2 linked regions of the Homo sapiens genome follow. The protein of the gene in region 1 interacts with the protein of each later gene in a pairwise test. Each region holds a gene or a part of one and is shown in the gene's direction. Other genes may lie near its edges.

Evidence for each region.
Region 2: the proteins of PPARD (region 1) and PROX1 interact in a two-hybrid assay, tested with the Homo sapiens proteins (one study listed by BioGRID).

The regions. Positions count from the first base shown.
Region 1 is NC_000006.12:35,338,243-35,345,557, forward strand, and holds the start of PPARD (peroxisome proliferator-activated receptor delta), read left to right. Parts: upstream 1-4,315; 5' UTR 4,316-4,439; exon of another isoform or gene 4,440-4,467; intron 4,468-7,315. UniProt on the Homo sapiens protein: Ligand-activated transcription factor key mediator of energy metabolism in adipose tissues. Receptor that binds peroxisome proliferators such as hypolipidemic drugs and fatty acids.
Region 2 is NC_000001.11:214,032,938-214,039,972, forward strand, and holds part of PROX1 (prospero homeobox protein 1), read left to right. Parts: intron 1-2,708; coding exon of another isoform or gene 2,709-2,711; coding exon 2,712-2,897; 3' UTR 2,898-7,035. UniProt on the Homo sapiens protein: Transcription factor involved in developmental processes such as cell fate determination, gene transcriptional regulation and progenitor cell regulation in a number of organs.

The DNA.
Region 1 (7,315 bases):
AGCAGTGGTTTGTAGTTCTCCTTGAAGAGGTCCTTCACATCCCTTGTAAGTTGTATTCCTAGGTATTTTATTCTCTTTGTAGCAATTGTGAATGGGAGTTCACTCATGATTTGGCTCTCTGTTTGTCTGTTATTGGTGTATAGGAATGCTTGTGATTTTTGCACATTAATTTTGTATCTTGAGACTTTGCTGAACTTGCTTATCAGCTTGAGGAGATTTTGGGCTGAGATGATGGGGTTTTCTAAATATACAATCATGTCATCTGCAAACAGGGACAATTTGACTTCCTCTTTTCCTAATTGAATACCCTTTACTTCTTTCTCTTGCCTGACTGCCCTGGCCAGAACTTCCAACACTATGTTGAATAGGAGTGGTGAGAGAGGGCATCCCTGTCTTGTGCCAGTTTTCACAGGGAATGCTTCCAGTTTTTGCCCATTCAGTATGATATTGGCTGTGGGTTTGTCATAAATAGCTCTTATTATTTTGAGATACGTCCCATCAATACCTAGTTTATTGAGAGTTTTTAGCATGAAGGGTTGTTGAATTTTGTTGCAGGTACTTGAAAGGAAGAGGGGCTGGGACAGGAGCTTTATGCTGAACAGGTTGGCTAAACATACATATTCTGGCTAATTTTTTTGTGTATTTTTAGTAGAGATGGGGTTTCACCATGTTAGCCAGGATGGTCTCGATCTCCTGACCTCGTGATCTGCCTGCCTAGGCCTCCCAAAGTGCTGGGATTACAGGCGTGAGCCGCCGTTCTTTTTTTTTTTTTTTTTTTTTAAGAGACAGGGTCTCACTATGTTGTCCAGGCTGGTCTCGAACTCCTGCGCTCAAGCAGTCTGCCCCCCTCGGCCTCTGAAAGTGTTGGAATTACAGGCGTGAGCCACCGTGCCTGGCAGAAAATATAGTTTATTCTTTAGGTGTAGGCGTGTGTGACTTAACCCTTACCTGACACGGCCTTAGGTCCTGATTATAATTTGGTATCTTATTGCCATAAAGAGTGCATTCTGTTAGTCTATGATCTCTATTTTAACATTGATGCTGGTCAGATGTTGTGTCTGAACTGCAAAAGGGAGGGAGTATAACCAGGCATGTCTGACCCCCTGACCTGTCATGGCTGGAAACTCAGTTTTTAAGGTTTTTCTGGGGTCTCCTTGGCCAAGAGGGTCCATTCAATTAGTTAGGGGGCTTAGGATTTGTTTTTAGTTTACAGGGGAAATAAGCCTATTAGGGGTAGACAGATCTGCAAAGCATGAGTGTTGGCAGGAACTTAAGCAACAAAGAGATACGGTTAAAATGTCGCTTTCTCTTTCTCCGTAGAAAGCCAGAGGAATTTGTGTTTTCTCCAGAGAGGGTGGGACAGAGGAGAGAATGGTGGGGCAGGAGGGAGAGTTAGTGATTTTGGAGGAGGCTAGAGGGTGCAGGGCCAGTTAGAAAACCTCAGCTGGGGGTGTGGAAAGGACTTCTAAAAACTTCTGAGGGGCCCCCTCCCCCTCCCCCGCTCCCTCTCCCCACGGTCTCCCTCTCTTTCCACGGTCTCCCTCTCATGCGGAGCCGAAGCTGGACTGTACTGCTGCCATCTCGGCTCACTGCAACCTCCCTGCCTGATTCTCCTGCCTCAGCCTGCCGAGTGCCTGCGATTGCAGGCACGCGTCGCCACGCCTGACTGGTTTTGGTGGAGACGGGGTTTCGCTGTGTTGGCCGGGCCGGTCTCCAGCCCCTAACCGCGAGTGATCCGCCAGCCTCGGCCTCCCGAGGTGCCGGGATTGCAGACGGAGTCTCGTTCACTCAGTGCTCAATGGTGCCCAGGCTGGAGTGCAGTGGCGTGATCTCGGCTCACTACAACCTACACCTCCCAGCCGCCTGCCTTGGCCTCCCAAAGTGCCGAGATTGCAGCCTCTGCCTGGCCGCCACCCCGTATGGGAAGTGAGGAGTGTCTCTGCCTGGCCGCCCATCGTCTGGGATGTGAGGAGCCCCTCTGCCTGGCTGCCCAGTCTGGAAAGTGAGGAGCGTCTCCGCCCGGCCGCCATCCCATCTAGGAAGTGAGGAGCGCCTCTTCCCGGCCGCCATCACATCTAGGAAGTGAGGAGCGTCTCTGCCCGGCCGCCCATCGTCTGAGATGTGGGGAGCGCCTCTGCCCCGCCGCCCCATCTGGGATATGAGGAGCGCCTCTGCCCGGCAGCGACCCCGTCTGGGAGGTGAAGAGCGTCTCTGCCCGGCCGCCCCGTCTGAGAAGTGAGGAGACCCTCTGCCTGGCAACCACCCCGTCTGAGAAGTGAGGAGCCCCTCCGCCCGGCAGCTGCCCCGTCTGAGAAGTGAGGAGCCTCTCCGCCCGGCAGCCACCCCATCTGGGAAGTGAGGAGCGTCTCCGCCCGGCAGCCACCCCGTCCGGGAGGGAGGTGGGGGGTCAGCCCCCCGCCCGGCCAGCCGCCCCGTCCGGGAGGGAGGTAGGGGGGTCAGCCCCCCACCCGGCCAGCCGCCCCGTCTGGGAGGTGAGGGGCGCCTCTGCCCGGCCGCCCCTACTGGGAAGTGAGGAGCCCCTCTGCCCGGCCACCACCCCGTCTGGGAGGTGTGCCCAACAGCTCATTGAGAACGGGCCAGGATGACAATGGCGACTTTGTGGAATAGAAAGGCGGGAAAGGTGGGGAAAAGATTGAGAAATCGGATGGTTGCCGTGTCTGTGTAGAAAGAAGTAGACATGGGAGACTTCTCATTTTGTTCTGCACTAAGAAAAATTCTTCTGCCTTGGGAAAAAAAAAAAAAAAAAACTTCTGAGGGGTGAGTTTAAACTGTTTGCCATGTATCATATGACCTCCCCCAGGGCCCAGAGTACCCTAATGTCTTTGTACTCGTCAATGTTTTGTGTGGGAAGGGTGCGGGCAGTCCTTAGGGAGAGCTGAGTTTCCTCTCCAGACTTCTGAACTGTGGTACGCAACAGCCTGGCAAAAGCAGAAACCCAGAGGCAGAGATATTTAGGAGAATATAAATCCCCAGATATTTGCAAATATGTTAAGGGAGGGACTCTGACTTTCACCGTCCATTTTTACCTCAATCTCAAAGGGCAAGGAGGTTGACATCTAAGTTACAAATATAATGCACAAGCATTTCAAAAAGTAGGGGAAAAAAAAGAAAAAGAAAAAGAGAAGCAGAAAGAAGGGGGAAAAAATCACTCATCCCTGCCAGGCACGGTGGCTCACGCCTGTAATTCCAGCACTTTGGGAGGCTAAGGTGGGAGGATAACTTGAGTCCAGGAGTTCAAGACCAGCCTGGGCAACATGGCAAAACCCTGTCTCTACTAAAATTACAATAATTAGCTGGGCGTGTGGCGCATGCCTGTAATCCCAGCTACTTGGGAGGTTGAGGCAGGATAATCGCTTGAACCCGGGAGGCGGAGGTTGCAGCGGGCTGAGATTGCGCAACTGCACTCCAGCAGGGGCGACAGAGTGAAACTGTGTCTCAAAAAAAAAAAAAAAAAAAAAAATCACTCATCCAGATAGCTAGGTGTGGCCTAAGGAGCTTGCGGCCTACGGAAGGTGTGGCCGAAGGAGAGGGGAGGGGTCATCTTTAATGATGATGGAGGGGAGGCATTGGTCATATACCTGAGAGTCAAGCTTTGTTCATCGTCAGATGAAAGCCAACTTCTTCCACCAGATTGCCTCCCAGCTGCTAGGTAGTTTCCTGTGGTACATCTTAAGCGGTAGGTTGGGATAATAGGTCCCTTCCAGGTCTTAAAGATGTGGATTAATAAGAACAGAATTTTCTACAACAATAAGGAGGATGTCCCCTATTTTAGGTGAATAAGCGTATTGCATAAGCACATGGGAAGAAAGGTTAAGAACTCTAAGACCGTAAATTTCCAGTTGTAGAAGCCTCTTGAAGGCGGAAAGCCCTTTTTTGAAAATTATAGGCGATATGATCTCCTCCAGTGGACCTAGCACTGGGTTAAGAGTCTCTCCAGACTTGTCACTGCAAGTCACGTACCTTTTCTAGGACTAAGTTTCTTCACTGGAAGATGAGGAGGTTGCACTAGATGACCTAGAAATTCCCTTCCAGCTTTAAATTCCCTCTTGTGTCACTTGCTGGACTTGTTCTACTGGACCTGGCGCTCCCCTGCTCCTCCCTTAGCTGCTACGTCCGCATCCCGCACCAGAGGGCGCCACAGGCTGGCCCGGGGCAGCGTGCGGTGGGCGGAGAGGCAGAATTAGGGGAGTCTCCAGGAGGCGTGGTGATTGGCCGCCGCCGGGCGGAAGGGGGCGTGGGGAGGGAAAGGCCGAGCAGCGCGGTGACGTCTCGCTGGCGGGGGCGGGGCCGGGCCGCGGAGCGTGTGACGCTGCGGCCGCCGCGGACCTGGGGATTAATGGGAAAAGTTTTGGCAGGAGCGGGAGAATTCTGCGGAGCCTGCGGGACGGCGGCGGTGGCGCCGTAGGCAGCCGGGACAGGTCAGTCCGAGACGAGAGAAGCGGTCAGGCAAGTGGCGGAGGGAAGCGCCGGGCCTGGGCCGAGGCGGCCAGCGGGACTGGGGCGCAAGGCCCGGCGGCGGGGAACGGGGTGCGGGGAGCTGCCGGGGTCCGCGGACAGCGTCACGGCGGCTTCCTGATGCTCCGGCCCGCTCCGGTCAGCCGTCGTGCGTTGCCATGTAGGCGCCCCGCTGACCCTGCGCCCCCCCGCCCTTGGACCCCCATAGCTGCTTGAGTGAGTCCGAAATACGGGCCTCCTTCCACCCTACTCTTTGCCCCCTCTTGGGCCTGGTGGCTTCGTCTTCTCCCACTTGTGAGAACCCCGTCTCAGGCCCGGGGGCCTCTCCCATTCCCCTCCCCTGCCTCTGACCTCTTCCTTCACCCGTTTCTGGTGTTCCTGAATCCACTGCCCTATCTAGCGAGAGTCTTCTCTGGGATCTTTTCCTCTGTCCCCCTCGTTATCCTTGTCTCCTGCCTTCATCCTCCCATCCTTGCTCTCTCAGGCTTTACTCTCTCTCCCCATCCCTGTCCCCTTCTTATCTGTGGTCTGATCCCTCCTAGTATTATGGGTCCCCATCCTCTTCCCCAGGGTGTTCCTAGGCTTTTTCCAACTCCGTGCCTGCAGTCCCTGTCTCCCTAAGACTCTCACCTTGGTTCCCTGAGAGGCCCTGTTTTTGCTCCTTTTTCCGATTTCCTTCGTATCAATTCTGTCCCCTACATTCCTGTCGCCCACCTCCTTTTCTCTCCCTGTTCCTTTCCCCTGCTTCAGGGAGAAGCCTTAGCTCCACACTCTACTCTACTTTCACTTGACCTGCAGTTGACATAACCATGGGGTGGGGGTGGAGGTGTTCAGACCTTGATCGAATTAAGAGGCTGATTGACTAAAGGAAATAACAGATTGTGTGGGAGAATGTACGTGGGTGTTGCATCAGAGATGATGTCCAATTTGTAGGCCATTCTTCTTATCTCAGCTTTAATACTTCCCCTTTATGGGGCTGTTGACTTCCAGGAACCCTTGGGGGAGACGGCGCTGAGCTGGATGTGTGCCACGGGTAGCCGGAGGCTTTGTCCAATTCTTTTCCCCTTCCAGGAACCGGGGTTTTGTGTCTTTCCACTCTGGATGTGTGGAATACACTTATACCATGATACCCCAGCCTCTCTCTGCCCTCACTCCCACCCTCCACCCTGTGCTCCATCCGAAAGGACTAAGAGAATTCTCCAGAAGCTGTGCTCCAGAAAATACTTGTGGTCCTCAACCTTTTTTCTGTGTACTGGCTCCAGAACTTTTTTTTTTCCCGTTTGAGTTTTGAAATAGATTGCTGGCCTGATAGCCCTGGGGCTGGCGGGCATCTGTCCCCTTTTATTATTGGTGGCTTGAAACAGCTGCTGATTTTCTCTCATATCTCTTTGACAATCTTTGGCCAACTGAATGTGCCTCTGATGTTGGTCACTGAACATGTTCTCTTGGAGTCTCTTCTCCCTCTTTTTTCTTTGTTCTTTTCTGAATCTAGGGAATCCAAATTGTCCCTCTTTTTCCCTGGGAGCTTAATTTCCTCTGTATCCAGGAGGAACGGCAATCCCAGAGCTCTGTTCCCTTTGCCCAGGCATAGTATGAGGTATCAGATTGATAACTACCCTGGTGGGCTGTGGGGCTGCAGTAGTTAGACCTTGTCAGGAACTTGAGCAGACACATCTGCTTCCAGTCACATAGATCATCTTCTCTGGGGCTTGAGAGCCCACCACCTTCCATGTGTGTCTGGATGTTTAACCTTACCAAGCAGAAGATTCTCGTCATATCCTTCAGTTTGAGCTCCTTTATTTGGCGTTGGTTCTCTAAAGAAGTATTCAAGAAATAACATATCCTTTGTTTCTACCCAGTCTGATCTTGGAGGATTCTGAAAGCGTGACCCACTCTCATGTTTAGAAATGAAGGCTCATTGTTTCACCTGGCCCCAGGTTTCTAGGGGCTCCTCTTTTGATGATTGTGCTGTCTTTGAGCCAGATTGGACATGGGAGTTGGCAACCTTTAGGAGCTGCGGTGGAGAGCCAAAGGAACCAGCTTGACCAGACTTTAAAGTTTTGTAATCCTCTTGTACACTGTTTTCTGTGAAAGCAATAGGATTGTGGATGGCCTGTTGTTGAGCCAGTCCCTTCTCCACTGACCCCCAGACCCCCTTTGCAGCACTTGCAAAGATTTGGGTAGACTGGACCAGAGGGTTTTCCTTGTTCCTGTGAATAGCATCTCTCCAGGGTTTTAGTGGATCATTCTAAAGAGGTAGAGGTCAAGTGTTGGACAGATTTTTAGTCTAGTCTCTGGCTTTCAAGGACTCCTCCTTACTCTTTTGAGCAGTTTGTTACTTCTGGCCGTGCTTACCCCTTAGTAGTGCTCTCTGCTGTGGTGGCAGGTGAGAGATTTGAGAACAGGTCAAGGCCAGTCCTTGTGGAGCAGCTTGGGCACCAGCAGCCCTAGATGGATAGCTTCTTGCAGTTTGTCCACTCTCATTTTCTGAGAAGGTAGTCATGATTGTCAATTACCAAATTCCTTCCCCATTCAGTGATTTTTGCAGAGTCTGGGTCTGGATTTTCTTTCCTTCTTTCTTTTCTGACACAAGGTTTTGTTCTATTGCCCAGGCTGGAGTGCAGTGGTGCTATCATAGTGCACTGTAACCTCGAACTCCTGGGCTCAAGGGATCTTCCTGCTTCAGCCTCCAGAGTAGCGGGGACTACAGGTGCACACCACCACACTCAGCTAATTAAAAAACAATTTTTTTGTAAAGACAGGCTCTCACAATGTCTCGAACTCCTGGCCTCAAGCAGTCCTCCTCACCTTGGCCTCTCAGAGCACTGAGATTACACTG
Region 2 (7,035 bases), on another chromosome or scaffold:
GAAGAGGAGACTGCATACAACCCCCAAAGAAGTTGCCTTGTTCTCATGCAAATCCTACAACTACACTTCCCTCCCTCCCCTGCTGCTGATGTTCTAGATGTACCTCTTCTCTCTCCTCTGACAGTCTTGAACAATGCCTGCCCTTCCCCTGTCCCTGGTTCCCCAGACCTCCTGTGCAGTTCTTGGTGTGGGCAGGGCTTCCGGCCTTCTCTGGCTTCTCTGGGGCAGCTGCCCACACCTTCACCCCTCAAAGCTCTCTGCCATGTCATGCTGCATCCCTGAGTGCTCAAGGAACATAGAATTTCACTGAGGCTGTATTGCCGTTGGCTGATGAAACCACCCTTCTTGAAACGTTTATTTTAATAAATGCCTATAATTGGCCAGGTGCAGTGGCTCACACCTGTAATCTCAGCACTTTGGGAGGCCAAGACGGGCAGATCACCTGAGGTTGGGAGTTGGAGACCAGCCTGGCCAACATGGTGAAACCCCATCTCTACTGAAAATACAAAAGTTAGCCAGGCGTGATGGCACTTGCCTGTAATCTCAGCTACTCAGGAGGCTAAGGCAGGAGAGTCTCATGAACCCAGGAGGCAGAGGTTGCAGTGAGCCAGGATCATGCCACTGCACTCCAGCCTGGGTGACAGAGCAAAACTCCATCTCAAATAAATAAATTAATAAATGCCTATGATTATGTTTCTGTAGCATTTGGCTAACAGCTCCCAATCCAAGGAGTGAGAGTGGGCAGTTGCTCCGCTTCACTGTTCTCCAGCCACATTCCCTCCCTCAGTGATGCTCATTTGATAGAATGTGGAGGATTATCTTTGGGGGTGGAGGTGACTGTGCTAGAAAAGATTGCTTCACGAATTTTTATTTGTATAATGTGAGTGGGAGGGCTAAGCTCTCCTCCAACAAATACTCATGTATACAAGACATTTGGGAGGAAATCACCCAAAGGCCTGTAGAAAATCCACATGAATTCTCAGCAGAGAATGGCCCTTGAGGTGTATGGGTTTGCACATTCATGGCGGACAAGGCGGCACTTTGAAGGATTTTCCAGGCAACACTGGGAATTATGTCCTAAGAAATGGGCCAGTGTGAAAGTCTTTAGGAGGGTCTGATAAAAATGTAAGCTTAAGACTGATTGGCCCCAAAAGGAGTCCCTTTCATTTTTTTCTGCAGAGTTATTACATTTCTTTATAAACAACAATTAACTTGCCATAGGGAACAATGAACTTCTTTGTCCAATTTTAAACGTGAAAAACAGTGATGTCGGGTGATGATTCTGGTTTTCTTTACCAGTTACTACTATTGTTAAAAAGTACATTGCACCCAAGGTGGGAAGAAAGAGATGAAACATGTTCAACATTACACTACTTCCTTTTTACTTTGGTACGTGGCATGTCTGAACTTAGATGAAATGTCTTTCATCTCTTGTATATGCGTAGATAAATATGGCTACATGTACACCTATGATACGTTTATGTCCTCATACGTCTGCACTTAATGTAAAAATGAAACTTTACTGGTGTATAAGTACCCCACTAAAAGAAATCTACTAAGTGTCAATGTGTACTTGGAAAATCATGAGTTCATGGATTATTCTGTGATTCCATTATGTTGGTGTGGGGATAGATAGACCATGCTGTACTATAAGTAACTTCCAAAGAACACTAAATAAGTACATCAGTAGCTACTGCTTTCCTTAGTCAAGAGATCAGATTAATAAGTAATTAAGAGAACACACACACACACACAACACACATACATATTAATTGCTGTGGAAGAAAAGCCTTAAGAAATTGGGGTTCTAAAATGAATATTTGGGGAATGTTTATTTTGGATGATAAGGACCTTGAGGAATTTCCTTACCCTCTCTGAGCCTCAGTTTTCTATTGTGTAACTGGGATAATAACACCCCTTAGAGAGATTGGGAGAACTGAATGACATAATTCACATTCAGTACATAAAACATAGCCTGGCAAGTAGTAAATACTCGAAAAAAGTTAGTTTGTATTATTATTATTATCAGCTGAATAAATCACTCTCTTATGGAGCAATTCTAATCTCAAGGTTAAGTAGTTTCTGATGTAATATTTTAGGATCAGTTTTGTGACTTCATGTTAATATTATTATTTTACTCCTTTATGTATATAGAATACTTTATATTGCAGATTAATATACAACTTAGCATCTGAGTCAACAATCCTCTGAGACAAACAGATAACTGAGATTTTAGAAGATTTTCTTCATTTAAAGCTTGGGTTTAATTTATAAAGAAGCCCAACTATTTGTTATTCTATTTTGAGAACGTATTTTGTTTTCATCATGGCAATCAAAAAGAAATAGGATTCAAATTCTGAAAAAATAATTGGAGACTTTCTTCTGGATAGCACTTATTTAATAAAGTGAGGAATCCCAAAAGTCACATCCCATATTCCTATCCTAATATCCACAATGAAATCCCAGTTTTTCAATAGGTCTGCGTTGGATCTTTCATACACTCTTCTTAAAACAAAGCTGTCAACCCCACATCACAATGCTTCTATATATAATGACTTTACATTAAAAGAATAGAAGCCAGCTATTTTTAGAAAATGCAGGTGCCATGTAAGCCCCTTTCTGCAAGAATGATCTTAGCTCAGTTTCCTTGGAATAACTGTAGACTTGAAACTGAAAACTTTATTAATGCCATTGTCTCCTTGTATCAGCAGGTTCCAGAGAGATTCCTGGAAGTTGCTCAGATCACATTACGGGAGTTTTTCAATGCCATTATCGCAGGCAAAGATGTTGATCCTTCCTGGAAGAAGGCCATATACAAGGTCATCTGCAAGCTGGATAGTGAAGTCCCTGAGATTTTCAAATCCCCGAACTGCCTACAAGAGCTGCTTCATGAGTAGAAATTTCAACAACTCTTTTTGAATGTATGAAGAGTAGCAGTCCCCTTTGGATGTCCAAGTTATATGTGTCTAGATTTTGATTTCATATATATGTGTATGGGAGGCATGGATATGTTATGAAATCAGCTGGTAATTCCTCCTCATCACGTTTCTCTCATTTTCTTTTGTTTTCCATTGCAAGGGGATGGTTGTTTTCTTTCTGCCTTTAGTTTGCTTTTGCCCAAGGCCCTTAACATTTGGACACTTAAAATAGGGTTAATTTTCAGGGAAAAAGAATGTTGGCGTGTGTAAAGTCTCTATTAGCAATGAAGGGAATTTGTTAACGATGCATCCACTTGATTGATGACTTATTGCAAATGGCGGTTGGCTGAGGAAAACCCATGACACAGCACAACTCTACAGACAGTGATGTGTCTCTTGTTTCTACTGCTAAGAAGGTCTGAAAATTTAATGAAACCACTTCATACATTTAAGTATTTTGTTTGGTTTGAACTCAATCAGTAGCTTTTCCTTACATGTTTAAAAATAATTCCAATGACAGATGAGCAGCTCACTTTTCCAAAGTACCCCAAAAGGCCAAATTAAAAAAGAAAAATAATCACTCTCAAGCCTTGTCTAAGAAAAGAGGCAAACTCTGAAAGTCGTACCAGTTTCTTCTGGAGGCAAAGCAATTTTGCACAAAACCAGCTCTCTCAAGATGAGACTAGAAATTCATACCTGGTCTTGTAGCCACCTCTCTAAACTTGAAAATAGGTTCTTCTTCATAAGTGAGCTTACATCATTCTTCATAAAGAAAAATCCTATAACTTGTTATCATTTTTGCTTCAGATACTAAAAGGCACTAAGTTTCCAATTTACGCTGCTCAACTTTGTTTATATGCTTAAAAGGATTCTGTTTACTTAACAATTTTTTCCCCTAAAATACTATTTTCTGAATACTTCCTTCCAGTAAGGAATAAAGGAAAGCCCAACTTGGCCATAAAATTCTTGCCTACACTAGAAGTTTGTTGACAGCCATTAGCTGACTTGATCGTCATCTCCTAAGAGGAACACATATATTTTCACAAGCAATTCCACACTATCCTGATGGGTATGCAAAGTGGTGACAGTCTAACTCAGTGTTTCTTCATTTTAGGTATAACATTTTAAAGCAATTGATAATGCCTCTTCCAATTCAGAAGCTAGTATTGACCAAAATGTGAGAAGAGTGTATAGCATAGGAAAATTTGGGGTTAACCCAAAAGACACAATTCCAGCACACATAAGAAAGCTAGCTGCTATTTTATGCTTTCTTCCATGGTTCTCCTCTTTTTTCCCTTTTATTTTTCCCTGTTTTTCAATGATGTACAGTGTTCCCTACTTGCATTGAAAAAACTCGTATGGCATTCACACTTTTTTTCTTAGGTGGGTTTTTGTGTCCAGATGCAGTAAGAATTCATTGTTCATCCTAAAACTGTTTTCCAGACCCTTCCTTCCCCTTAGGTAATTTGATATACACCTCCTAAAATGACACAGTAACAAATCTGGTATTTAGAACATATAGAACATAAATGCCATTTTTTAATTCAACTTTAATAAGAATTACATTTGACTTTGGAGAATACAGGTCTTGACCCATGTGACTGACTAGCTGACCCGATCGCTGTAATTTAACGTCATTTATAAATTCTGCTGATGGACAGGAATGTATGAACTCAATTATTGTCAGCACAAAGCCTTAAAACCTGCTGACTTTAAATTAAATGGTGCAGTCCTATGATGCCCTGCACCATCCAGGGGACTAACAGGGCCTCGCAGTGTAGACAGAGGGTGCAGCCACACGGGCGGGGGCACCAGCCACCTCACTCTGCACCCGCGGCCTCACACATCTCCCAGCTCACACTCTACTAATGCACAGAGTCATTAGATCCAATTTGTTATTTTTCTCACTTGCTTTAAAAAAAAGCAGTTTGGATAATCATGACATTGGAATAAAGTGGGAAGGAAAAATTCCATCAGCACAAAATAGGGAAGTAATCCCAACTTGTAGTCACAGTTTTCTGACTGGCTTTGTTTTAAAAGAGGATGGCAGTCCTTGTTCGTGTCAGTGTGCCACTGGGTTTTTGCTGTTCCGTGTAATTCATATCAACTTTGTGTTGCCATTTGCAAGGTAAAAGGCAAAGCTGTAGTGTATTCACCTATGTAGACAGATTGCTAGATATCTTTTTGATCTGGGGCGAGTTCAATATTGATTCCAGACTTATTTGGATTTTTTTAGTATTATTTTCCCCTCCCTTTCTAATTTAAATAGACAAATTAAGCAAAAGTGTGTGTTCACAACCAAATGTTGATGCCCTTATCTACTGATAATATCCTCTCAATGTTCACTGAGGCATAGAAATTATTTCAGAGTAGAAATTGCAGCATGAGGATAAACTCACCTCTTTGTTCTGAAAATAGAACTTTATCACTATGCTTTCCGGTGGTTTTCCCTTTTACAATCGAAATCTTGTGCCTCCCAAGTGCATTGGAAAATGACAAAAGCCTGTCTCTCCAAATTCCTATTTAACAGTTTGATTTTTTTTTTTTAATCACCATCTTTCAAATCTTAGCTCAACTCTCACCAAGTGAAAATTGGCTACTTGGGAGAAAGTTAACTTTCTATGGTGGGATGGTGAAGGATGAGGGACAGTTTACATAGGAAAAGAAAAAAAAAAGTCTAAAGTCCATGTTGAAAAACCACACTACCACTTATTTTCTGCTAACCCTAAATTATTTTTGCGTATACGCTTGAGGTTATAGTCTGTGCCTAGACCTAAAATGCACCAGCGGGGGGGATTTTAAAAAATCCTTCAAAATACCAGTTTTTTCCCAACAAGTACAATTGTTCTTGTGCCTTCTGTGGCTTTCGATTTCATCTTTTTGACTTTATTTCCAATTACTACAGCTGCAATAAACACTAGATTTTTTTTCTGGCTGTTTGACATAACGTTGATAGCTATGCATATTTTGTGTCTTTTTAAAACAAAGCGGGAGAATACGTTTTTGAAGAAGAGAATTTTTAGAACAGTTTGATACCGCAAATTATTTTTTCCTCAATTGTTTGAGCAGCATTCGAGTTTTGAAAATTCTTGTAGAAGCCAATTTTTTGTAACTGTGGTGCAAATCTTGTGTTTTCTTAGCCTAATGAAAAGTAGTATAGAAGCAATATTTCATACCATGTGCTATATATGTGTGCGCAGATGTGTGAACATAAAATCACATACACACATATACACACATGTAAAAATATACATATATATATATGCGTGTGAAGTGGAAAGCTTACCTTTTCCTATCTAGATTTAAGAACCTATTTTAGACATTTGTTATGTTTTGTGAAAAGAATGTTCTATTTGCAACAAAACATTTAATTCTTACTGTATCTCTGGCTGTTTAATGAGGACGTTTCACATTAAATGGTAAAACACATGGAAGATGTTAGAATGTAGTAATTATTTAAGTAAACGTTCACCCACATATTCCTGAAGTTTGCTTTGTGCCTCCGAGTATTATTTAATTAAAGAAGTGTTTTATGTTTGCAGAATCTTTGTCACTGTACTAGGGATGTGGGTGAATATCATTTAAAAAAATTTAAAACAACAAAAAAAAAGCAAAACAGAAACACTAAAGCAAGAGGGGAACTTTTATAAAGCAATGTAAATATTTAACCTCATGGCTGTCATTATGTAAGACATGAGATTTTAATAAATAACTACATTCTCACGACATCTGTTGAATTTACTAGGAACACTACAGTGACTGTATAGACAGTTGAAAGCATTCTTGAAAATCCTGCTCTCTCCTTTTAAAAGTTAACAATCTCTTTTATCAGATGTCAAGGGCAAGGGTAATGCAGTTTCTGTAAATTTATGAAATTTCTTTTTCTATGTACATGAAGACATTTAGTAAGTAACACCCCCCCTTCCCATGCGCACATGTGCGCATACACACACACACACACACACACACACACACAAACACACACACTGTCATAAAGCTAATGATTTGGGGACTTTAAAAAATAGGATGTCCTCCAGGAACAATCATAAATTTATGAAAGAAAGAGTAGTTTACAGACTCCCCTGAAAGAAGCAGTGTATATGTGAAGACAGTGCAA